Linked DNA regions of Homo sapiens. The protein of the gene in region 1 purifies or fractionates together with the protein of each later gene. This does not show direct contact. Each region holds a gene or a part of one and is shown in the gene's direction. Other genes may lie near its edges.

The links.
Region 2: the proteins of COPZ1 (region 1) and SARNP purify together in Homo sapiens (affinity purification with mass spectrometry, with the first as the bait; one large-scale study listed by BioGRID). This does not show direct contact.
Region 3: the proteins of COPZ1 (region 1) and LMAN1 purify together in Homo sapiens (affinity purification with mass spectrometry; one large-scale study listed by BioGRID and IntAct). This does not show direct contact.
Region 4: the proteins of COPZ1 (region 1) and ATL3 purify together in Homo sapiens (affinity purification with mass spectrometry, with the first as the bait; one large-scale study listed by BioGRID). This does not show direct contact.
Region 5: the proteins of COPZ1 (region 1) and RBM10 purify together in Homo sapiens (affinity purification with mass spectrometry; one large-scale study listed by BioGRID and IntAct). This does not show direct contact.
Region 6: the proteins of COPZ1 (region 1) and KLC1 fractionate together in Homo sapiens (co-fractionation; one large-scale study listed by BioGRID). This does not show direct contact.
Region 7: the proteins of COPZ1 (region 1) and CTSV purify together in Homo sapiens (affinity purification with mass spectrometry; one large-scale study listed by BioGRID and IntAct). This does not show direct contact.

Annotation. Positions count from the first base shown.
Region 1 is NC_000012.12:54,342,131-54,345,630, forward strand, and holds part of COPZ1 (coatomer subunit zeta-1), read left to right. Parts: intron 1-75; coding exon 76-157; intron 158-1,094; coding exon 1,095-1,186; intron 1,187-3,329; coding exon 3,330-3,385; intron 3,386-3,500. UniProt on the Homo sapiens protein: The coatomer is a cytosolic protein complex that binds to dilysine motifs and reversibly associates with Golgi non-clathrin-coated vesicles, which further mediate biosynthetic protein transport from the ER, via the Golgi up to the trans Golgi network.
Region 2 is NC_000012.12:55,811,225-55,814,724, reverse strand, and holds part of SARNP (SAP domain-containing ribonucleoprotein), read left to right. Parts: intron 1-3,500. UniProt on the Homo sapiens protein: Binds both single-stranded and double-stranded DNA with higher affinity for the single-stranded form. Specifically binds to scaffold/matrix attachment region DNA. Also binds single-stranded RNA. Enhances RNA unwinding activity of DDX39A.
Region 3 is NC_000018.10:59,342,266-59,345,765, reverse strand, and holds part of LMAN1 (protein ERGIC-53 precursor), read left to right. Parts: intron 1-3,500. UniProt on the Homo sapiens protein: Mannose-specific lectin. May recognize sugar residues of glycoproteins, glycolipids, or glycosylphosphatidyl inositol anchors and may be involved in the sorting or recycling of proteins, lipids, or both.
Region 4 is NC_000011.10:63,629,877-63,633,376, reverse strand, and holds part of ATL3 (atlastin-3), read left to right. Parts: intron 1-279; coding exon 280-351; intron 352-554; exon of another isoform or gene 555-1,183; intron 1,184-1,905; coding exon 1,906-2,337; intron 2,338-3,500. UniProt on the Homo sapiens protein: Atlastin-3 (ATL3) is a membrane-anchored GTPase that mediates the GTP-dependent fusion of endoplasmic reticulum (ER) membranes, maintaining the continuous ER network. It facilitates the formation of three-way junctions where ER tubules intersect.
Region 5 is NC_000023.11:47,169,221-47,172,720, forward strand, and holds part of RBM10 (RNA-binding protein 10), read left to right. Parts: intron 1-94; coding exon 95-278; intron 279-1,807; coding exon 1,808-2,038; intron 2,039-3,500. UniProt on the Homo sapiens protein: Binds to ssRNA containing the consensus sequence 5'-AGGUAA-3'. May be involved in post-transcriptional processing, most probably in mRNA splicing. Binds to RNA homopolymers, with a preference for poly(G) and poly(U) and little for poly(A).
Region 6 is NC_000014.9:103,635,711-103,639,210, forward strand, and holds part of KLC1 (kinesin light chain 1), read left to right. Parts: intron 1-3,500. UniProt on the Homo sapiens protein: Kinesin is a microtubule-associated force-producing protein that may play a role in organelle transport. The light chain may function in coupling of cargo to the heavy chain or in the modulation of its ATPase activity.
Region 7 is NC_000009.12:97,029,177-97,032,659, reverse strand, and holds the end of CTSV (cathepsin L2 preproprotein), read left to right. Parts: 3' UTR 1-2,983; downstream 2,984-3,483. UniProt on the Homo sapiens protein: Cysteine protease. May have an important role in corneal physiology.

The DNA of each region.
Region 1 (3,500 bases):
GGGCAAAACATAGTCACTAATCATTCTGGCTTCCAGCTCTAGTGACCCAACCCTGTCTTCTTTCCCTCTGACCAGTACTATGACGACACCTACCCCAGTGTCAAGGAGCAAAAGGCCTTTGAGAAGAACATTTTCAACAAGACCCATCGGACTGACAGTAGGTCATTTTCCTTTCACTACTACCCGTGCTGGGGGGAACCATGGTGGAAAGGGGGTGGTAACAGGGCTGCAGAGAAAGGATGAAATGACTCTGCCTTTTTCTTTTTTTTTCCTTCTTCCCCTTGTATAATAAACTCTTCAGAATGTAATGGGGAGGTGAGTGTACCTCACGCGGGAATACCATGCTGGAAGGTTGGCTGTTAGCTACCTGTCTAGTCCCTGGATTTATGAGCCTCACTTGACAAATTTAATTGCAGCTCTGCTTATTGTACCGCATCCATTAGGGCAGGTAAATGGAAGTCTGTAAAGGTGACCGCTCTGCATTTTCACCTCCGAAGGATCGACTAGTATCCTGTCTCATATACAAGTAGGGAAATAGGTATAGTGGGCAGGAACAGAGGATGGTGGTTACAGAAGATACATTTAGACTCCCCCAAGTTCATACTTCTCTTCTCCTGCCACCACCCAAAAAGTGCAGATCATCTTCTGGCTTTGGAAGTCATTACAGGCGGCCTCACCTTAGCCCAAAAGAGCTGGATACTAGGAATTCATGGTAACGCCTTCTTTTTTTTTTTTTTTTTTTTTGAGACAGAGTCTCTCTCTGTCACCCAGGCTGGAGTACAGTGGCGAGATCTCGGCTCCCTGCAACCTCCGCCTCCCAGGTTCAAGTGGTTCTCCCATCTCACCCTCCTGAGTAGCAGGGATTACAGGTGCACACCACCACGCCCGGCTAATTTTTGTATTTTTAGTAGAGACGGGGTTTCACTGTGTTGGCCAGGCTGGTCTTGAACTCCTGACCTTAGGTGATCCGCCAGGCTCGGCTTCCCAAGGTGCTGGGATTACAGGCATGAGCCACTGCGCCTGGCTGGTAACTCCTTCTTTCCTACTTCCTTATCTCAAGCCACCCACTATTTTTACTTTTTTTCCCCCACCAGGTGAAATTGCCCTCTTGGAAGGCCTGACAGTGGTATACAAAAGCAGTATAGATCTCTATTTCTATGTGATTGGCAGCTCCTATGAAAATGAGGTGAGAATCCCCACCCCTCTTTGCTATTTCTGATCCTACTTTCTAAACCACAGGCAGTACATAGCCACTGGTTTGGGGCCCTAATAGAGCCGTGTTCCTCTGGCTTCTGACCAAGCTAATGAAGTTGTCAGAGATCCCACCAGCCTCACAAACATGGCCCGGCAAATGAATCGCCTAGAAAGGAAGTTTTCCTAGATTAATCTTTTGCATCCATTAGGAAACATCATATATGTTTTAATACCTTTCCCTGAGTAGTGTTTTTTAAGATGGATTTCTGAGGTATGGTCAAGACTGCAGGGGGATACTTGCTTCTTCTATGAAGGGTCCATACCTGACTGAGTTTGAGCCAATTAGCTAACAACCTGGGTCATGTTGAAACCATACATTCTGAATGGATCACTGGAGAAGACCTTGGGTATAGTCCTAACCTGCTTCCTATATGCAGGAAAAGCTGTTTGCCTCAGATAGCAACTTCTAGGAGAATAGATAAATAAAAATAAGCCCCCAGATAATTTGAGGCAAAAGTGAAAGTTTGAGAAAGTCAACTCTTACTGAGCTCTTATTATTGGTATAAGTGCTTTGTAAAGTATATTGTTATTTAAACCTCATAGCACTTCTATGAGTTGTAGGCATTGGTGCCTTTGTTTTACAAATGAGGAAACCAAACCATGAAGAACTATATGAAATTACTTGTATGTGACCATTGAGAAAAGTACAAAAGTGGCAGTTATCTGATGTGGTTCAACCTAGTAACTTTCTCAGGGTCACACATGTAGAAAATGGCTCAGCTTGGATTCCAACCCATATCTGTCTGACTTAAAGTCCATGCTTTTTAAAAAATTTTGAGACATAGGCCGAACGTGGTGGCTCACACCTGTAATCCCAGCACTTTGGGAGGCCAAGGTGGGCGGATCACTTGAGGTCAGGAGTTCGCGACCAGGCTGGCCAACATGGCGAAATCCCATCTCTACTAAAAATACAGGCCAGGCATGGTGGCTCACACCTGTAATCCCAGCACTTTGGGAGGCCGAGGCAGGCGGATCACGAAGTCAGGAGATTGAGACCATCCTGGCTAACACAGTGAAACCCCATGTCTACTAAAAATGCAAAAAATTAGCTGGGCGTGGTGCGGGCACCTGTAGTCCCAGCTACTCGGGAGGTTGAGGCAGGAGAATGGCATGAACCTGGGAGGCGGAGGTTGCAGTGAGCCGAGATCATACCACTGCATTCCAGCCTGGGCAACAGAGCGAGACTCCGTCTCAAACAAACAAACAACAACAACAACAAAAATTAGCTGGGCGTGGTGGTGGGCGCCTGTAATCCCAGCTACTTGGGAGGCTGAGGCAAGAGAATTGCTTGAACCTGGGAGGTGGAGGTTGCAGTGAGCTGAGATTGCGCCATTGCACTCCAGCCTGGGTGACAGAGCCAGACTCTCAAAAAAAAAAAAAAAATTTGAGACAGGGTCTTGTTCTGTCTCCCAGGCTGGACTGCAGTGGTGCGATCTTGGCTCACTGCAACCTCTGGCTCCCAGGCTCAAGTGATTCTACCACCTTAGCCTCCCAAGTAGCTGGGACTGCAGGTGCCCACCACCATGCCTGGCTAATTTTTTTTTGTATTGTTTGTAGACAGGGTTTTGCCATGTTGCCCAGGCTGGTCTCAACTCCTGAGCTCAAGCAATCGGCCTGCTGCAGCCTCCGAAAGTGCTGGGATAGAGTCAGAGTCTAGACAGGGTCTAGACGTTACAGGTGTGACCCACTGTGCCCAGCCAATTAAAGTCCATGCTTTTTACACTAACTCTGAAGCCTTCCTCTGACCTCAGCTATTGCTTGGTTAGTAATTTCTCTACCTAAGACATCAGGTAACACATATACAGTTGGTGAAGACATTGTAGAGGACTGTGACAGGGAAGTTCTGTTTAAACTTTTGGCTAAAAGATGTTGAATTGTGGAATCATGTAGCAGAATTTATTTCTGTGAGAAATCACAGATCCTTTTCCTGTTGTGCTCTCACTTCCACTTTATGTTTTTGGTCCTTTGTGAAAGCCTGTGTCTTTTGATGTTTAATGAATTAGGAGGTTTTGTTTTTAGGTAGCAGCTTTCAGGGCCTTGAACCTTATCCTTCTGCCTCCTCTGTTTCCCAACAGCTGATGCTTATGGCTGTTCTGAACTGTCTCTTCGACTCATTGAGCCAGATGCTGAGGTGAGCAGGACATTCTTTTTTTTCCCCTCAAGTTATGATGGAAAGAGCAGGGCATTGTTGATTTCTTTTTGGGAGATAAAGTAACCATTCTTCAGGCCCAGGGATTGTAGGGGAT
Region 2 (3,500 bases), 1.5 Mb from region 1:
GCTAATTTTTGTATTTTTAGTAGAGATGGGGTTTCACCATGTTATTGGTCCGGCTGGACTTGACTGACCTCAGGTGATCCTCTTGCCTTGGCCTCCCAAAGTGCTGGGATTATAGGCATGAGCCACCACTCCTGGCCCATACTAACACATTTGGAAAGAGAGATTGAACTGTGGATGAAAATGGCTTGAACTGTAACAGTATCAGATATCCAGTCAAACATTAGAAAAGGAACTATTGCAGAGGAGAGGAGAAAGTGATAGTAGTGTCAGAGTGTTGAGAATAGTGAGACATTTGTATTGAAAAGTGAAGTGAGGAAATATATTGGTAGTTGAAGATAGTTTGGAAAGGAAAATAGGTAAACTATAAAGGTAAATCAGAGTGATATTGAAAAGGGCTTTCTAAGTTATGTAAGGACTTCTGGCCTTTGTCATGTAAGAAGTAGGGCTGGGAGCCTTTGGAAGTTTGAAAGGAGGAGCTTGATGTGATCAGCTTGTATTCTCTTGGCGGATGGGATTTGTAGGGGGAGCGATTTCACCACTTAGATATTTATTATAGGAGTCATTCCCCTGCTTAAAACCTTTAAATTATATCCCTGCCCGTCTCTCCAGCATAGTTACTAACTCTTCAACTACTGTGGCCTTATTTTATTTAATTTCTTCAGAATGCTTCATCAATTGCCAACACTTAGCATTTGTTATGTGGCAAAGCACTGTTTGAAGCCATTTACATACACTAACTGATTTAATTCTCATAATAACCCTGTAAGGTAAATACCTGTATTATCCTCATTTGAAAATAAGAAAAACCATAGCTCAGAGAGAGTAACTGAGTAACTTGCCTTAGGTTGCACAGCTAAAATGTTGTATATTAAATCCAAGCAGGCTGGGTGCAGTGGCTCACGCTTGTAATCCCAGTACTTTGGGAGGCCGAGGCAGGCGGATCACCTGAGGTCGAGAGTTCGAGACCAGCCTGACCAACATGGAGAAACCCCGTCACTATTAAAAATACAAAATTAGCTGGGCGTGATGGCACATGCCTGTAATCCCAGCTACTCGGGGGGCTGAGGCAGGAGAATCACTTGAACCGCGTAGGTGGAGGTTGCGGTGAGCCGATATGGCACCATTGCACTCCAGCCTGGGCAACAAAAGTGAAACTCCGTCTCAAAAAAAAAAAAAAAAAAAAAATTCCAGGCAGCCTGTGTCCAAAATTCATGTTCTAATCATTGCACACTGCTTCTCCCTCTTACCTCAACCTAGAACCTTCACATATGCTGCAATTGGAGTTTTCTTTCGGCTGTAGTACTCCGGCTGCCCTTCCTCCCTAACACGTTTATCTAATTAATTACTACACCCCTTTCAGGTGTTTCACTCAAATATTATTTACCCAAGGAAGCTTTCTATGTTCTATCCACAAACATGGTCAGGCCACTTTTTATATAATTTCATAAGACCCTGTGTGTTCTTAAAAAATCAGCTAAACATGCCGGGCACGGTGGCTCATGCCTGTAATCCCAGCACTTTGGGAGGCCAAGGTGGGCAGATCACGAGGTCAGGAGTTTGAGACCAGCCTGACCAATATGGTGAAACCCCATCTCTACTAAAAATACCAAAAGTAGCTGGGCCTGGTGGCGCGCACTTGTAATCCCAGCTACTCGGGAGGCTGAGACAGGAGAATCACTTGAACCCAGGAGGCGGAGGTTGCAGGAGCCGAGATCGCGCCATTGCACTCCAGCCTGGGCAACAGAGTGAGACTCCGTCTCAAAAAAAAAAAATCAGCTAAACGCTATCTGATCATTGATTGGTTTGTTCTCTGCAAGATTGTAAGCTCGGAATGGGAAGGACTCTTATGTTTTGCTCATGATTATTTCCCTGTATCCAAGATAATACTTGATAATACAGTAGGTGCTCAATAACGATTTGTTGAGTGAATAAGCATGTCAAGACTTCAAAAGAATGGGAATGAATTTGAAAGACATTTAGGATGTAGTAGAATTTCAAGTATTTATAGATCAGTTAGATATGGGAAAAATGAAAGATGACTCCAGGGTTTGGGTAGTGATACCTTTAGTCTGGGTTGGGAGGAGGAGAAGCCAGTTTTGCACAGAAGAGGTAAGTTCATTTTGAGGCTTAGGTGTCTGTGGGACATCCACTTGGACATGTCAGGTAGTCAGTTGGAAATGTGGGTCTTTCACTCAAGAGCTGAAAGCTGATGATGAAGACTTGGGATTTATTCAGAAAATATGGAGCACCTGCCATGTCCCAGTTACTGTGGGTGCCAAAGATACAGCAGTGAACAACAGAGACAAAATCCTTGCTCTCATAGAGCTTGTATTTTACTGAGGGAAGGCAAAATAAAAAGTAAAATTTATGGTATGTCAAATAGTGATTGATAAGGCACATAGAGAAAAATAGGAGAAAGGAATAGGGAGTACAATGGGAAGGGTATTGTAATTTTAAATAGAGTGACTGGGGAAGTCATTAACAAGGAGATGTTTACAAAAAGAGTTGAAGGACGTGAAGGAATGAGCTATGTGCAAAGTGTTAGAGGAATAGCACAAGACCAGTTTGGCTTATCAGAGTGAGCAATGGTAATAAGGTAATGGTAGGGGAGGGCAAAGCTGCAGGGCCTTTTAGGTGATAGGATTCAGCCTTTTACCCTTAGTGAGATACGAAACCAATGGATGATGTTTGACTAGAGGAGTGACATGTTCTGACTTAAATTTTCAAAAGATCACTCTGTTACTTTGTTGAGAATAAACTATAGTGAGGCAAGGGCTGAAGAATTTTGACAATAATCTGTATGAAAGAAAGACTAGAGTAGTAGCATTTGCCGTGGTGAGAAGGGTTTGATTTTGGATATATTTTAAAGATAATGCTGATAGACTTTGCCGCTGATTGAAATCGGGAAGTGAATTAGCCTTTGATATATGTGGAATGACAAGACGCCCAAAGAAGGAATCTTAGTGAATATTTACAGGTTTGAGTGGAAGAAGAGCTAGCAAGGAGGCTGAGGAGGAGAGAGTGAAAGAAAGAAGTGCCAAGACTTTGGCAGTTAATATTGAGCATAAATCAGAGACACTTGAGCTGGCATATTGGTCTACTATTTACAAGCTGTGGTTTGTTTGTTTGTTTGTTTGTTTGTTTGTTTGTTTTTTGAGACAGTGTCTCGCTTTTTCTCCCAGGCTGGAGTGTAGTGGCACAATCAGGGGTCACTGCAGCTTCAGTCTTCTGGACTCAAGTGATCCACCTCAGCCCCTGCTCCCACCCAGTAGGTGGGACTACAGGGGCACACCACCACACCTGAACTGTGTATTAATTTTTTAATTTTCTGTAGAGACAGAGTCTACCCGTGTTGCCCAGGGCTGGCCTCAAACTCCTGGCTTTGAGCAATCCTCCCACCTCAGCCTCCCAAAGTGCTGGGATTACAGGCATGAGCCACCACACCTGGCCAAGCTGTGTGATATTTAAGCAAGTTATTGAATTTCTTTAAGCCTAATTGT
Region 3 (3,500 bases), on another chromosome or scaffold:
TCTTTAAGAGTCAAGAGATTGGCATTTTTACCAGTGAGAATGTGGCTTAGTCATGTATGAAATAAAGAGTACCATGGTTATTTGGAGGAATGGGACCGCTAGAGTGAAAGCTCCATGAGGACAGGGATTTTGTTAATATTCATTGCTGTGACCACTAAGCCTAAAAATAAATCCAAAACAATGCTAACCTAGTAGTTCAGGTTCAGTAAATATTTTTTGACTGAAATCATCAAAAGTGTATATTTTTGGTTTTAGTGACACATAATTACCTTATAGTGTGGAGATAATCCTTAAAATCTATCAAAACTGTTGTGAAAGTAATGTGACATATCTGCTTCTCCTCCCCATACTACTCGATAGAATCCTGGACTGTATACTTGAAAATTATAAAATACTAGTCTAACCCAATGTTATTAAGAACGTGAGTGTGCTAATGTCAAAAATAAAACATTTTAAGGCCAAATTGAGGGAATTTATATTATCTGCTAGCTTTTTATCTGAATTGTTCCCAGTCAGCATAAGTGATCAAAGGTGTACTTAATAAAGGCTGTGGCTAGCATTTGAACTCTATGTAGTATGCAGTTCTCTTAATGATCAACAGTATGAGTCAGACTTAATGAATTTAAAAATGAAACATAAAGGTCATTCTTATTTTGAATTTGTTTTAAACATCATCACATAAAATTTGTGAGTATATCCTGAAGCTGACTTTAGTGTTTGAAAAGTATTGTTTAGTAAATTTTGACAAATGTGTATACCCATTTAACCATCACCCCGATCAGTACACGGAACATTTTTATCATCCCAGAAAGTTCCCTCATGCCTCCTTAAAGTCAACAACCTTCTCCACAGAGCCCATCACTATTCTTATTGTTATCACTGTAGATTAGTTCTGCCTATTCTTATAAGTAGAATCACACAGTGTAATGAAAGAGAAATATTTTTCCATTTTAATTTTATTTAACTTTTTATGTATTTAGGAAGAGTACAAGTGCAGATTTCTTATATGCTTGTGTCATATAGTGGTGAAGTCTGGGGTTTTAGTGTACTCTCACCCTAATGAACCTGGTACTCAGTGGGTAATTTTCAACCTTCATTCCCCTCCCACCTTTTGTAGTCTCCAGTGTCCGTTATTCCACTCCATTTGTCCATGTGTACCCATTGTTTAGCTTTTACTTATAAGTGAGAATGTATGGTATTTGACTTTCTAAGTCATTTCACTTGGGATAATCACTTCCAGTTCCATCCATGTTGCTGCAAAAGACATAATTTCATTCTTATTTTATGGCTGAGTAGTAGTCTATAGTATATACATACATATATACACACACACACGCCACATTTTCTTTATCAAGTTCTCTGTTGATGGGCATTTAGGTTGATTCCATATCTTTGCTATTGTAAATAGGGCTGCAATAAACGTATAAGTGCAAGTATCTTTTTGATATAATGATTTCTTTCCCTTTGGGTAAACACCCAGTAGTGGGATTGCTGGATCAAACGGTAATTCTAATTTTAGTTCTTTGAGAATTCTCCATACTGTTTTCCATGAAGGTTGTACTAATTTACATTCCCACCAACAGCATATAAGCATTCCCTCTTCTCCACATCTTGACAACATCTGTTGTCTTTTGACTTTTTAATAATGGCCATTGTGACTTGTGTAAGATAGTATCTCATTGTGGTTTTAATTTGGATTTTTTTGATGATTAGTGATGTTGAGCATTTCTTCATTTATTTGTTGGCCACTTGCGTGTCTTCTTTTGAAAAATGTCTGTTCATGCTCTTTGCCCAGTTTTTTAATGGGCTTTTTGTTTTTCTCTTGAGTTGTTTGAGTTCCTTGTAGATTCTGGATATTAGCCCTTCGTTGGATGCATAGTTTGCAAATATTTTTTCCCATTCTGTAGGTTAGATTATTGTGTTGATTGTTTCTTTTGCTGTGTAGAAGCTTTTTAGTTTAAGTCCCATTTGTCTATTTTTGTTTTTCTTGTGTTTGCCTTTGAGGACTTGGTCTAAGTTCTTTACCTAGGCCAATATGCAGAAGAGTCTTTCCTCAGTTTTCTTTTAGGATTTGTATGGTTTCATGTGTTATGTTTAGGTCTTTAATCCATCTTGAGTTAATTTTTGCATATGGTGAGAAGTATGGGTCCACTTGCATTCTTCTATATATAGCTATTCAATTTTTTCTGCACCGTTTATTGAATAGGATGTCCTTTCCCCAGTGTTTATTTTTGTTGACTTTGTTGAGGATCAGTTGATTGTAGGTATGTGGGTTTATTTCCTGGTCCTCTGTTCTGTTCCACTGACTTATGTGTCTGTTTTTATACCAGTATTATGCTGGTTTGGTTACTTTAGCCTTGTAGTATAATTTGAAGTCAGGTAATGTGATGCCTCCAGATTTATTCCTTTTGCTTAGCATTGCTTTGGCTATTTGGGCTCCCTTTTTTTTCCATATGAGTTTTAGGATTTTTTTTTTCTAATTCTGTGAAAAATGACATTGGTAATTTGATTGGGAGTGTCTAGAACTAGTAGATAGTTTTGGGCAGTATGGTCATTTTAACAATATTGATTCTTCCAATTCATGAGCATGGGATACTTTTCCATTTGTTTGTGTCATCTACCATTTCTCTCATCGTTGTTTTGAAGTTCTCCTTATGGAGAGCTTTCCCCTTCTTGGTTAAATATATTTCTAGGTGTTTTTTTTTTTTTTTAGCTGTTGTAAATGGAATTGCCTTCTAGATTTGGTCTGCTAGATCATTATCAGTATATGAAAATGCTACCGATTTCTGTACATTAATTTTTTATCTTGAAACATTACTGAATTCATTTATCAAATCTAAGAGTTTTTTGGTGGAGTCATTAGGATTTTTGAGATATAAGATCATATCATTAGCAAACAGGGATAATGTTACTTACTCATTTCCAGTTTGGATGCCTTTTATTTTTTTCTCTTGCCTGATTGCTCTGGTGAAGACTTCTAGTATTATGTTATTACACGTAAGAGTGATAAAAGTGGCATCCTTGTCTTGTTCCAGTTCTTAAAGGGAATGTTTTCAACTTTTCCCTGTTAAGTGTGAGGTTGGCTGTGGGTTTGTCATATGTGGCCTAATGTTGAGGTGTGTTCATTGAGGATTTTTATCATGAAGGGATGATGAATTTTATTGAATGTCCTTTCTGAGTCTGTTGAAATGATCATGTGTTTTGTTCTTAATTCTGTTTATGTGGTGTATCATATATATGGATTTTTATATGTTGAACCCTCCTTGCATCCCTGGGATAAATCCCACCTTGATCGTGCTGTATTATCTTTTTGATGTGCTGTAGGATTCATTTTGCTGGTATTCTGTAGAGGATTTTTGCATCTTTGTTCATCAGGGATATGGGTCTGTAGTTTTCTATTTTTTTGTGTCCTTGTCTGGTTTTGGTATCAGGGTGATACCGCCCTCATAGGATGAGTTAGGGGGAATTCTCTCCTCAGTGTTTTGGAATAATTTCAGGAG
Region 4 (3,500 bases), on another chromosome or scaffold:
AATAATATTTTCCTTGAATTTTGGAGATTTAATTTTTGCTAAAGATTCTTATGTATAAGAATACATATTTCTATGTATATGAACTTCTACCTTTTTTTGGTAGAAAATTTGGCAGAAAAAGTGTATTCTATTTCATCAGTTGAACTATATGGAAATCTAGAAAAATAGAAGGTTAATAAAAAAGGAAGAATGGGGAATAGAGAAGATTTTTGTTAGGTTATTTGTGGAGGAATGTTAAAAGAGGAAGGATTTACAGTTCACGTTTTTCTCTCTTAAAAGGCCACTGCTGAAGCCAACAACTTAGCAGCTGCAGCCTCTGCCAAGGACATTTATTATAACAACATGGAAGAGGTACGTGGGACATACGCCTTATTCTGAAATATCTATAATCTGGGCATTGTTGCTGACTTCAAAAGCCCAACTTGATCCTACTTAATGTATCTTTAAGTGATGAGGCAATAAACTTATATTCAGGTTGTCCTGGTAACGGGGGCCTTCTAATTATTACCATTTCTTTGTTTGTTTGTTTGTTCTTGTTTTGTTTTGTTTTGTTTTGAATAGCAAATAGTTTATTGGTAAGTACATAGTTTCAATGGGAGTAATAAATTCACATGAGCAGGAGACAATAATCAAGTCAAAAGAATAAATGCTTACTAATCATCAGAAAATCTGTGGCCATTAAGGCTGGCACATAAAAATCCAAAATCACTCAGAGGCCGAATCTTAAAAGAAGATTCGTCCTCTTATTAGTTCATATGGAATAGGTCCATAGTAACTGGAATCTGTAGAATTCTGTAGATTTATCACCTTCTAACCAAACATGACCCACTGGGACATAACTGTAGCTTTTAAAGAAATCTGATGGACTAGTGGTGAGGATTTTGTCTCCTTCCAAACCAGTTACTCTTTTACAAATATTTGATGTTGGATCACTTGGGCTTTTTGCAATCACAATGTCACCTCTTTGGATACTATCAAAATGTCGACTAAGATTTTGTGCAAAGACAGTATCTGAATTTTGAATTGTAGGCTCCATTGATGGTCCAGAACACATGACAACACCACCAACGTATTCAGAAGCACAGTGAGCTATACAGCCATACTGAATAGCATAGCCAACAAGTCAGAAGGTTTCCCCAGAGCACCACGAAGCATAGTTCTATGTAGACTCTGCCACCATTGGTCATAGATCTGTTCTATAATTCATTTAATTTTTAGGGAAGTCGCAGGGCTTCCAGAAAAAAAAAATTAAAGCATGTCTCAAAGCGTATGTGGGTGATCCATGATTTCAGGAATCCTCGGGTCCCAAAGAACCCTGAGGACCCTCAACCAGGACACAGGTGGGCCTTTCTCACCTGGGCCCTGCAGAAGTCGACCGTTTGCTTTTGTTTTTTAGAGACGGAGTCTCACTCTGTCGCCCAGGCTGGAGTGCAGTGGTGCGATCTCGGCTCACTGCAACCTCCGCCTCCCGGGTTCAAGCGGTTCTCCTGCCTCAGCCTTCTGAGTAGCTGGGATTACAGGTGCCTGCCATCACGCCCGGCTAATTTTTTTTGTGTTAGTAGAGACGGAGTTTCACCATGTTTACCAGGCTGATTTCAAACTCCTGACCTCAAGTGATCTGCCCGCCCTGGCCTCCGAAAGTGCTGGGATTACAGGCGTGAGCCACCGCACCCGTCCCAGTGTCACTGCTCTTTCCAATTGATATTATCACCCTGGTTTTTTAAGTGTGCTTTTCAGAGGAAGTGAAACTAGACTTTATTGGTCTTAGTCATCTTTTAAAAGTTAACTTATTAATACATTGTTAACATCTTAAAACATTCTAATCCTTTCATTATCTTTTCATGTTTTATTTGGCACTTGTTTTTGAAGAGATCTTTTAACATATTGTTTCTTTGTTCTTTTTAGGTTTGTGGGGGAGAGAAACCTTATTTGTCTCCAGACATTCTAGAGGAGAAGCACTGTGAATTCAAACAACTTGCTCTGGACCATTTTAAGAAGACCAAGAAGATGGGTGGGAAGGATTTCAGCTTTCGTTACCAGCAGGAGCTGGAGGAGGAAATCAAGGAATTATATGAGAACTTCTGCAAGCACAATGGTAGCAAGAACGTCTTCAGCACCTTCCGAACCCCTGCAGTGCTGTTCACGGGCATTGTAGCTTTGTACATAGCCTCAGGCCTCACTGGCTTCATAGGTCTTGAGGTTGTAGCCCAGTTGTTCAACTGTATGGTTGGACTACTGTTAATAGCACTCCTCACCTGGGGCTACATCAGGTATTCTGGTCAATATCGTGAGCTGGGCGGAGCTATTGATTTTGGTGCCGCATATGTGTTGGAGCAGGTAAGTGGTGCTGCTGAAGAGCCTGAGGGTTGATAATGGGCAGATATTTGTGCTTCTGTTGTAAAATATCTCAGTTTGGAAGAATTTCATAGTGAAGACATGAGACAGTGGCCACTCCGTTGGCTGTTGTTTTCTGATAGACTGTATGTTTTATTATCCTTTAGGATATTAATATTTATTCTTAATATTTTGTTTCCATGTCTAAAAAGGCCCCCGCCCCGCTTTTTTTTTTTTTTTTTGAGACAAAGTCTCGCTGTGCTCTCTTGCCCAGGCTGGAGTCCAGTGGCATGATCTTGGCTCACTGCAACCTCCGCCTCCCAGGTTCAAGTGATTCTCTTGCGTCAGCCTCCCAAGTAGCTGAGACTACAGGTGTGTGCCACCACGGCCCGCTAGTTTTTGTATTTTTAATAGAGACAGGGTTTCACCATGTTGACCAGGCTGGTCTCGAACTCCTGACCTCATGGTCCGCCTGCCTCGGCCTCCCAAAGTGCTGGGATTACAGGTGTGAGCCACCGTGCCCAGCCCAAAAATAGCCCTTTAATGCAAAAACATTCCAACTTAGACATACTGATTGTGTTCCCCTTTGGCAACTTTTTTTTTTTTTTTTTTTTTTGAGACAGATTTTTACGCTTTTGCCCAGGCTGGAGTGAAGTGGTGTGATCTTGGCTCACTGCAACCTCTGCCCACTGGGTTCAAGTGATTCTCTTGCCTCAGCCTCCCAAGAGTAGCTGGGATTATAGGTGCCTGACACCATGCCCAGTTAATTTCTGTATTTTTTTTTTTTTTTTTAGTAGAGACAGTGTTTTGCCATGTTAGCTAGGCTGGTCTTGAACTCCTGACCTCAGGTGATCCACCCACCTCGGCCTCCCAAAGTGCTAGGATTATAGGCATGAGCTATTGCGCCTGGTCGGCAACTTCTAATTACATGCTCTTCAGACATAATTTTTATGTGATTCTCACTTCTCACCCCCTCTAGATTAATTTACTTCATTGAAAAGCAAGAACTTTGAAAAAATTATGAACTTAACGAAAAATGTTCGGTTTTGAGTCCTACTGGATTAGGAAAGGGATGGTATCTTTTTTATTTAAAAATCTTCCAAAAGCCAGTGGCTTGGTTATTTATTTATTGGGTTGCTTATTTATTTATTTATAAAATTTTTTTT
Region 5 (3,500 bases), on another chromosome or scaffold:
AACCAAAACCCTACGAGAACACATCACCTGGGCCTCTTGCACCTTTTAGAAAGGGCAACCTTCTGATCCCTCCCCATCCTTCTTCCTCCACTAGTGGTGGTCGTGGTGACAGGACTGGCCGCTATGGAGCCACTGACCGCTCGCAGGATGATGGTGGGGAGAACCGCAGCCGAGACCACGACTACCGGGACATGGACTACCGTTCATATCCTCGCGAGTATGGCAGCCAGGAGGGCAAGCATGACTATGACGACTCATCTGAGGAGCAGAGTGCGGAGGTGAGGAGGGGGCGCGCTGCGCCAGGCCTGGCTGGGATGGGCTCCCAAGGGCCCTCTGTGTCTGGCTGCAGCACCGTGTGCAGGCAGCTCTCCACTCCCGTGCCTTCAGACTGTGCTCGGTGGCTTTGCCTCACCTGGAGGGCCTGTTCCCACTCCCCTCTCTGAGGGCTCCTCTCCCAACCTGGGTCTCCCTGGCTTCCACATGCTTGGCTCTGTACTTCTGAGGGCCCCTGGCCACCACTCTTTCCCTTTCTCCCTGTTGTTCAGTTCGGGCCCATGGCTCACTGTGAACCCTGTACTGCCCGCTCCCAGCCAACTTGGGCACTTGAAGAGCCTCTTCCATGGGACCCGGCGTCTGGGGTTGGGAGGACAACAAGGGGACTGCAGACCACCAAGCTGAGGAGCTCTGGGAGGCCAGCCATGGGCATTCCCAGTGGTGATAGAGCCCCTAGACAGAAGGGAAGGACCCTTCTGGAGAAGCCAGTGCCATGTTGGGTAGTTCACCCTAGCCTGCGGGATGAGGCGCGATGTTTACACCATCAGGGAGCCCCCACCCGAGGGGAAGAAACAGGCTTGCCTTAGGGGAATCCCAGTTGGAGGGGCAGTCAGGGACCTGGTCCATGCGAGCAGGCAGCTCTCCTGTCCAGCAGGCTGGGAAGGGAGTTCTTGCAAGCCCAGCCCTGGGGGGCAGTCTGTGAGCTGCCCACTGCCCTCTGGAGGGTCCAGGGCAAAAACCCCTTTGGTGGACTGCCAGGCTTCTCCAGTGGCAGCTGTCAAGCTGTGCCCAGACGTCTCCAGGAGCACTGGGCCCTGGCCAGGGTGGGAATGGAGCACCAAGTTATCTGGTGCTTCCCCACTGTGGGCGGGAGGGCTTTGGCCCCAGGCCTGCTCTGCTTAGTCCTGGAATGGATGGATTGGGCAACAGCCCAGAGCCCAACAGCCATACCGTTTTGAGCGTGGTGTGTGGTGGAGGACTGGCCAAGGCTGAGGATCAGGGACTGAGGAGGGAGTGTCTGCAGCCCTCACACCACCTCCACCAGCTCCTGCTGCCTGGCTCTGGCTGAGATCTGAAGCTGTTCTTATGCCCCCAGCTTGGTTGCAGGGTGGAACCGTAGGAGACATGCAGCCTTCGGTGGTACAGTGAAGCAATTGAGCACACCCCCTGAGCTGGCCAGAGAGGAGAGGAAAATCAAGGGTGGGGTCTGGTGTGCTGACCCCAGGCCATCTTGCCCCAAGGAGGTTTAAGCTGTGTCTTGTCAGCTACCTTTGGGAGTTCCCCCCACACCAATACTGTCACCTACCTCTCCCCACCCACTGAAGGCAGCCCCCAAAAGGACCCCATGGAGAATTTACAGTCCCAGAAAGATTGCAGGCCGGGGCCTGCCCACCCTGCCTGCCTGAGCCTTTAGCCGGAGCCCGCACATCCCTGGCTTTCAGAGCCTGCCTGCCTCACAGAGCCAGCGGCCAGCTCCTAGGCCTGCCCAGACTGACTGCCCGTCTGGTGTCACTCATCTCATTCTGTCGGCCAGGATTCCTACGAGGCCTCCCCGGGCTCCGAGACTCAGCGTAGGCGGCGGCGGCGGCACAGGCACAGCCCCACCGGCCCGCCAGGCTTCCCCCGAGACGGCGACTATCGGGACCAGGACTATCGGACCGAGCAAGGGGAGGAGGAGGAGGAGGAGGAGGATGAGGAGGAGGAGGAGAAGGCCAGTAACATCGTCATGCTGAGGATGCTGCCACAGGCAGCCACTGAGGATGACGTACGTGCCCCCCATGGCCCCGGGCAGGAGGCCAGGCTGGGTCTCCTCCAGGGCCCTCAACTTCTCCCCACCCCTCCCTCACCTGCAACCTCAGCGCCTTTCATCCCTTCTCCCCCTCCAGCTCCTATCCCCCAGCACTGATCCGTCCTCTGTGGGCAGGTCCCATCGGCCCCCCGGTCTGGAGGGAGGAGTGTCAGAGAGGCCGGCTTGGCCAAGGGACATTGGCCATGGGTGTCTGGTAGTGGTGGGTATGGGCGGGAGAAGAGCAGTCCTGCACATTCCACTGGTCATCCAGCCATTTTGCATGTGTGCATCATGGGCCAGACGCTCACCGGGCCAGTGCTGGCTATTGCTGGTAGCAGAGATGACACTGGGGCCCTGTAACCATTGGGGGAGGGATGGGATTTTCTGAAATTTCCTTCTCTTTTTCCCCCATCCTTTTTTGTCAGCAGCCTGGCCTGGCCTCAGAGCCTTGGGTGGCTGCTAACAGCCTCCACGCCTGCCTCCCTTTCCTCCTGTTTCCTTTTCATACATACTTCTCATGACAGCCACACTGAAGCCCCACGAGGCCTACCAGAATAACCTCCAAGAATAGTGTCCTGATCTTGGTCCTTCTTAGTCTACTCCGCCGCCCCTCACCCCCTACCCCCATGAATTCTCTGATCAGCCCTCCTCTGAAATCTGCTAGCTGCTCATTTTGTAACAGAGAAAATCCCACTTGTGTATTTGAGGGTTTCTAAGGTCTGGCCCACCTGCCCTGTTCAGGGTCAGACAGTAGCTGGTTGCTGACATTTGTTGAGAATGTATCTCAGGGTGGGCCATGTGTTAGGTATGATTCAGTCCCCATGGCAGCCCAGCAGGGAAGGTACTCTTTGTATTCCATCCTTCGGATGAGGAAACCAAGCCCTGAGTGGGAATGTGACTTGCCCCAGGTCTCATAGCCAGTGAGTGGCAGAGCAGAGCTGGAGTCTGAACCCGGGCAGCTGGACCCTAGAGCCCACTTTTTGCTGCTTCCTCAGCCTTCCCTGAGTTTGGAGTCCTGATAAGCTCTTCTGTGTGTTTTTCCTTTTCACCCTGTGTATGGGTGTGTGTAAGGCTAATGTCCTGTCTGTTGTTTAACCTGGTGGGGAAACTGAGGCCCAGAGACATGAAGACTCCTTCCCAAGAATGGCTGGCATAGGCTCCTGGTCCTCAGTGAGAGACCTCACTGGCCTAGAGACCCTGCCTCACCTGGGCCAAATCCTGAATTGCCTCTGCAGTTTCCCTCTGGCCTACTCCATCTGGGAAGCAATCCCCAGGACTACATCTTTTTGCTTTTTGTCTCCACCCTAAGTTATTGCTACAGTCATGGTCTAGGGCACATGGCTGGGATTTGCTCAGACTCCTGTCCTCCCCAGTTTGACATTTATGTCATGGATCTCTTTTGACGCAAGCTGCAGGTCAGCAGGGCAGGGGCGGGGGT
Region 6 (3,500 bases), on another chromosome or scaffold:
CCACGGCACTCCAGCCTGGGCGACAGAGTGAGACTCCCATCTCAAAAAGAAAAAAAAAAAGTAAAATAGGTACTGTTACTGAGATTCTACTGTTGAGGAATTTGAGGGTGAGAGAGGGGAAGTTTCAGAAACCAAAGTTACACAGCTGTGAAGTCAAGATTCTAACTCAGTTTTTTTGCTTCGCGGTATAAGCTTTGAATCACCTTGCAGTACTTAAAGCTGCAGCTTCAAGTGAATCATGATAATGCTGTTTAATCCTATCATTACTTTTTCTTGGGGAAACCTCGCGCCACTTCAATTTTTTTCAAAGATGTACCATTTTAACCATTTAAAAGTTCACAATTCAGTAGTGTTAAGGATATGCACATCGTTGTTCCACATTTCTGGAACTCTTTCATCTGGCAGCGCTGAGACTGTAGCCCCCAAATACTGATATCTCCTCCTCCCTCGCCCTCCCCCGGTAACCATCTTTTCTACTTTGTTTCTATGATTTTGACTACTTTCAATACTTTATTTTTTATTTTTTTTGAGATGGAGTTTCACTCTTGTTGCCCAGGCTGGAGTGCAGTGGCACGATCTCAGCTCACTGCAACCTCTGCCTCCCGAGTTCAAACAATTCTCCTGCTTTAATTTCCTGAGTATCTGGGATTACAGTCATGGGCCACCATGCCGGGCTAATTTTGTATTTTTAGTAGAGATGGGTTTCTCCATGTTGGTCAGGCTGGTCTTGAACTCCTGACCTCAGGTGATCACCCCCCATCGGCCTCCCAAAGTGTTGGGATTACAGGCGTGAGCCACCGTGCCTGGCCTTGCCTGTCTTTTTCATCTGAGCCATTCTAGCGGGGTATAGTGGCATCTTGTTAGTTTTAATGTGCATTTCACTGATGACTCATAATGGTGAGCGCTTACATGCTTGTCGGTCTTTGTATGCCTGGATTTGTAAAGTGTCTGTTCAAGACTTTTGCCCATTTAAAAAATTGGATTGTTTGTATTTTTAAGTTCCTTACATATTTATTTATTTATTTATTTTTGAGATGGAGTCTCCTCTGTTGCCCAGGCTTGAGTGCAGTGGCGCGATCTCGGCTCACTGCAAGCTCTGCCTCCCGGGTTCACGCCATTCCCCTGCCTCAGCCTCTGGAGTAGCTGGGACTACAGGCGCCTGCCACCACGCCCAGCTAATTTTTTTTTTTGTTGTATTTTTATTAGATATGGGTTTCACCATGTTAGCCAGGATGGTCTCGATCTCCTGACCTCGTGATCCGCCCGTCTTGGCCTCCCAAAGTGCTGGTATTAACAGGCGTGAGCCACCACGCCCAGCAGTTCCTTACATGTTTTTTTTTTTTCAGATGGAGTCTTGCTCTTGCTCTATTGCCCAGGCTGACGTATTTTTTATACAAGCCGTTTGCCAGATATATATGTGTCGCAAATATTTTTTCCTAATCTATGGCTTAACTTTATTTTTTGGTAGTGCCTTTTAATAAATCAATACTTTTAATTTTTCTTAACCATGCTCTGGCAAGTTTTATTAAAGAAATTTTCGGCTGGGCGCGGTGGCTCACACCTATAATCCCAGCACTTTCGGAGGCCGAGGCGGGTGGATCATGAAGTCAGGAGTTTGAGACTACCCTGGCCAGTATGGTGAAACCCCGTCTCTACTAAAATTACAAAAATTCGCCAGGCGTGGTGGTGTGCACCTGTAGTCCCAGCTACTTGGGAGGCTGAGGCAGAAGAATCGCTTGATCCCGGGAGGCAGAGGTTGCAGTGAGTCGAGATTGCGACACTGCATTCCAGCCTGGGCAACAGAGTGAGACTCTGTTTCAAAAAAAAAAAAGAAATTTTCGCAGGGTTTATTTTTATCTTTTATTTTTTGTTGTTGCCTAAGCAACATCCGCTTTCCTTAATTCTGAAAGCATATCTATAAATAAGTCACCCAAAGGCCAAATAGATGCATTTGTTTTGTCTGGTTGTTAATGTTTTCTTTTTAAAAAAATATTTATGTATTTATTTAATTTTTGAGACAGGATCTTGCTCTGTTGCCTAGGTTGGAGTGCAGTGTCACAGTCGTGGCTCAGTGCAGCCTCGTGTTCAAGTGATCGTCCCACCTCAGCCCCTGAAGTAGCTGGGACTACATGTGCGCACCACCATGACCGGCTTGTTTTTTGTAGAGACAGGGTTTCATGGCATTGCCCTGGCTAGTCTTTAACTTCTGGGCTCAAATGATCTGCTCTCCTTGGCCTCCCAAAGTGCTGGGATTACAGACGTAAGCCACTATGCTGGGCCACCAAGATACTATTTATTTCCCTGAATATGACGTGGACTGTTCCTGTAGGCTGGTCCCTTCACCTCAGGACCCTCTTTGCTGGTATTGTTTGGGGCTTCTGCGCCTGTATATGGGGATGGGACCTGACCCTGCTGATCTGGCCAGCACTGCCAGGGTTTCCTGTTGCCCATCTCTCGGTAAAACATCCCTTATAAACCTTTGCAAGGAAAAAACCTCTGTTTTCTTCCCTCCATCCCATTTTTCCTTAATGTGCTACCCTCGTCTGTATTCATAGGAACTTTATTTAACACTTGAGAACTGAGAGTAATTGACATTTCTTTCTTGGCTGTCCTTCATTCTGTGCACCCAGACCTATTGCTTTTTCTACCACATTCTTTTTCTCTTTTAGAAAATTGAAATGTAAGTCACATCACATCAAATGCCCCATTTTAAAGCGTGCAGTGCAGTGATTTTTAATGTATTCTCTGTTTTGTGCAACTACCATCTATCTAATTCCACACATTCCTTTTCCCTTTTTAGTGCTTGGTGTTTTTTTTTTTTCTTAACTTTCTTCATCACTGTAAGCTTTCCCCACCTGGCTGAATTTCACATGATAAAACCAGGGGAGGTAAAGTGACCAAAGATGATGCCCTTTGCTTCTCTGGCCTTTGCTTTCATTTCATTAATTTTTTTTTTTTTTTTTTTTTTTGAGTCAGAGTCTCGCTCTGTCACCCAGGCTGGAGTCTGGGTGTATATGTATGAACACAGTGGGGTGTGTGGGTGTGTGTGAACATAGTGGTGTGTATGTATGAACACAGTGGGGGTGTGTGTGCGTGAGCACAGTGGTGTGTGTATGTATGAACATAGGGGTGTGTGTGAGCACAGTGGTGCATATGTATGAACATAGGGTGTATGTGTGTGAGCACAAGGGTGTGTGTGTGTGTGTGCGTGCATGCAGAGTGGTAGGGTTCCTGAAGCAGAGGGACACTTGGGGCAAAGAGACCTTGGATTGTGTTCTTCTTGTTGGTAGAATAAGCTTAAATCACTTCATGTATCCCAGTTTCCTCAGCTGTAAATGGGAATTATAATGATAGGTCATCAAACTACCTGCAGACTTTTTTTGTTGTTATTTCGATAAAATATTACACATTTGAAAATGCTCCCAAAACTAACATATTGGACAGATGCGAATTCTTCTTTCCTTTTTTTTGAGATGGAGTCTTGCTCTGTTGTCCAGGCT
Region 7 (3,483 bases), on another chromosome or scaffold:
ATAAAGGTGGGCCTTTTTTTAATGCATTGGCTTTTTGTGTAGTCAGGAAATATAATTAAGCTCTGAAATAATAACTTCATGTGCCAATGGTATGTTAGGAGAAAGATGCTAGCAGAAAGCTGGCTTCCTGGCTCTTGAGTAGTTATAAAAATACAGACTTTATATCAGCTGCCCAGTTACTGTGTGTTACCCAACTCCTGAATCTACCAAAATTTGATAAACAATTTGGAAGGACAAACCTACATTTTTTTTTTTTATGAGACGGAGTCTCTCTCACTCTGTCACCAAGGCTGGAGTGCAGTAGTGTGATCTCAGCTCACTGCAACCTCTGCCTCCCGGGTTTAAGCAATTCTCTGCCTCAGCCTCCCGAGTAGCTGGGATTACAGGCGCGTGCCACCACGCCTAGTGTATTTTTAGTAGAGAGAGGGTTTCACCATCTTGGCCAGGCTGGTCTTGAACTCTCGACCTCGTGATCCACCTGCCTCAGCCTCCCAAAGTGTTGGGATTACAGATGTGAGCCACTGCGCCCAGCCCCTAAATTGTTTTAGTAAAGAAGAAAGCAGTTGACTTTTTAGAAAAGGAAATGTCTTCTTCCTTTGACACATAACCTCAAGATGGTTAGGTTACGTGATAAAAAGTGAAGCTGCTTGTTACTGGAGCCTCTCTGAATTGCTGGTGACCACTTTGCAGTCTGAGGAAGACGCAGGTGCAAGTAAGTTACCAAGGGTATTTTGTTTTCATTCCAAGTCTCTGATGACATATTCCACCTAGCTCTTCTAGAAAAGCTTATTTGTTAACTAGTGTTAGCAAAAATAAATGGTGTGGTTAACAAATCTCAGGCATTTGACAGTAGCTGGAGAAATTTGTTCAAGGTCCACAAGAGATGAGGCTGGGCTACAAAAAGAGGCCTCTGGCCGAAGATGGATAAGAGATCACAAGTGAAAGGTCAGAAGTCACTAGGCCAGACTCTGGCTACCTAATCCCTGAATTAAAAATAAACTCAAAATGGGGGGAAAAAGGCTAAGCATATAGTTACACAGGTAGTAAATACAAATAAAACGATATTTTTGCATATTTAAAATACTGGAAGAAAGTACACCAAACTTGTGGGTGAATTATGGGTGGTTATTTAACTCGTTTAGTGAAAAGCATGTATTTTTATGAGCAGGAGAAAATAGTAAAGATATACCCACATTCTGCAGGCTAAAGGAGAGCCCTGTGTGTGTTTTAAAAGCCCATGTTTCCAGTCAAATAAAAAATTACCGGGGATGAGCTGGTGAAATTTAATCGAAAGGTGATCCATTGTGAATGCAATGGGAGGGAAGGGGCATGTGGGACTGTGTATCCCAAAAACCCTTTGATAGCCTATGTCCACAGCCATCTCTGGAAAATCCAGTCTACCATATTCAGTCTTGAGTTTTCTCTGAGAAAGGATTCCTTCGTCTTTGCAGCAGCAGGCTAAGTTGGTACTCTCCACAGATTCTTGGAACAACAACCCAGGCTCTAAGGAAACATCTAGGCACTAAATTGAATGAAAGAGTGATGGCTTTTTATTCAAATAAAAAAATTTCAAATCTGTCAAAACAGCACCCCTCGGAAAACTAAAATAGAGATATTTCAAGATTTTATAATTTTCAAAGACCTTTGAAATATTTTAAACTTGTGAAAAGTTACAAACCTGATGTGTTGTCTAAAAGCGTTTTTCAAACAAGCCAGTAGACTTGAAAAATCTAGTCTGAAGCACAGACTTAACCAATATTTGCTGGGGATATGCCCCCAAATCTGGCCATAAACAAAATCTCTGCAGTACTGTGACAGGTTCATGATGGCCATGACGCCATGCTGAAGGTTTACCGGAATGAGAGCAAGGAACACCTGGACCACCCAGGGCGGGAAAACGGCTTAAAGGCGTTCCTAAACTACAAACAATAGCATGAGCGATCTGTGCCTTAAGGACATGTTCCTGCTGCAGATAACTAGCCAGACCCCATGCCTTTGTTTCGTTTGGGAAGGAATACTTTTAGTTAATCTATAATCTATAGAAACAATGTTTATCACTGGCTTGCTGTCAATAAACATGGGTAAATCTCTGTTCGGGGCTCTCAGCTCTGAAAGCTGTGAGTCCCCTGATTTCCCACTCTGCATGCTATATTTCTGGGTGTGTGTCTTTAATTTCTCTAGCGCCTCTGGGTTAGGGTCTCCATGACCAAGCTGGTCTCGGCAAATATTTCCTATACTCGAACATCTAAATTGTTTGTTTTCTTACTTGAATTGCAAAGGAAGTAAGGAAGGGTGAGATAGAAATCACTGAGCATATTAAGAGGGAGGAGTTTGCTGATGTGGGAGTGTAGTTATGACACTTGGGCATCATACTAGAGGCTATGGACTTAGCAATAAGGAAACATCCACTCAGCCCTATGTGTGGTTCATGTGTATGTTTTGCCTATGAAAGTTGAAACTGTTTTCTAAATGTTATTTCCTTTTGTAACTGATAAAATTTCTAAAAAGCAAAGAAGAAACTTTTCTGTATTAAAAATAACAAACATTAGTAAATGTATATATACAGTCATGTGTTGCTTAATGATGGGGATACATTCTGAGAAATGTGTCTTGGGTGATTTCATCGTGACGTGAACATCATAGAGTACACTGACACAAACCTAGATGGTATAGCCTATTACACACCTAGGCTATATGGTACAGCCTGTTGCTCCTAAGCTACGCACCTGTGCAACACATCACTGTGCTGAGTACTGTACACAGTTGTAACACAGTGGTAAGTATTCGTGTATCTGAACAGAAAAGTACAGTAAAAATATAGGATCATAATTTTATGGGACCACTATCATATATGCAGTCACTGACCAAAACATCACACAGCACATGACTTGTGTGTATGGATATCTCAATTGTAAACAATTTCACAAATGTTCATTATCTCTTTTTAAGTAAGTTAATAAGTAAAACTATTACTAAGCTGCAACGTGTTCTTGTTCTGCAGTGTATTTATTCATTTGGATACAGTTGATTCTTGAACAATGCAGAGGTTAGGGGCACCAACCCTTGTGCAGCCAAATATTTGCATATAACTTTAATTCCTCCAGAACTTTTCTACTAATAGCCTACTGTTGACTGGAAGCCTTGCTGATAACATAAACAGCCAATTAACACATATTTTGTGTATGTATTGTAAAATACTGTATGCTTACAGTAAGCTAGAGGAAAAAATGTCATTAAGAAAATCATGGCCAGGCACGGTGGCTCACACTTGTAATCCCAGTGCTTTGAGAGGCCGAGGCAGGCAGATCACGAGGTCATGAGATCAAGACCATCCTGCCTAACATGGTGAAACCCCATCTCTAATAAAAATACAAAAACAAAATTAGCCGGGCGTTGTGGCCGACACCTGTATTCGCAGCTACTCAGGAGACTGAGGCGGGAGAATGGCGTGAACCCGGGAGGCGGAGCTTGCGGTGAGCCAAG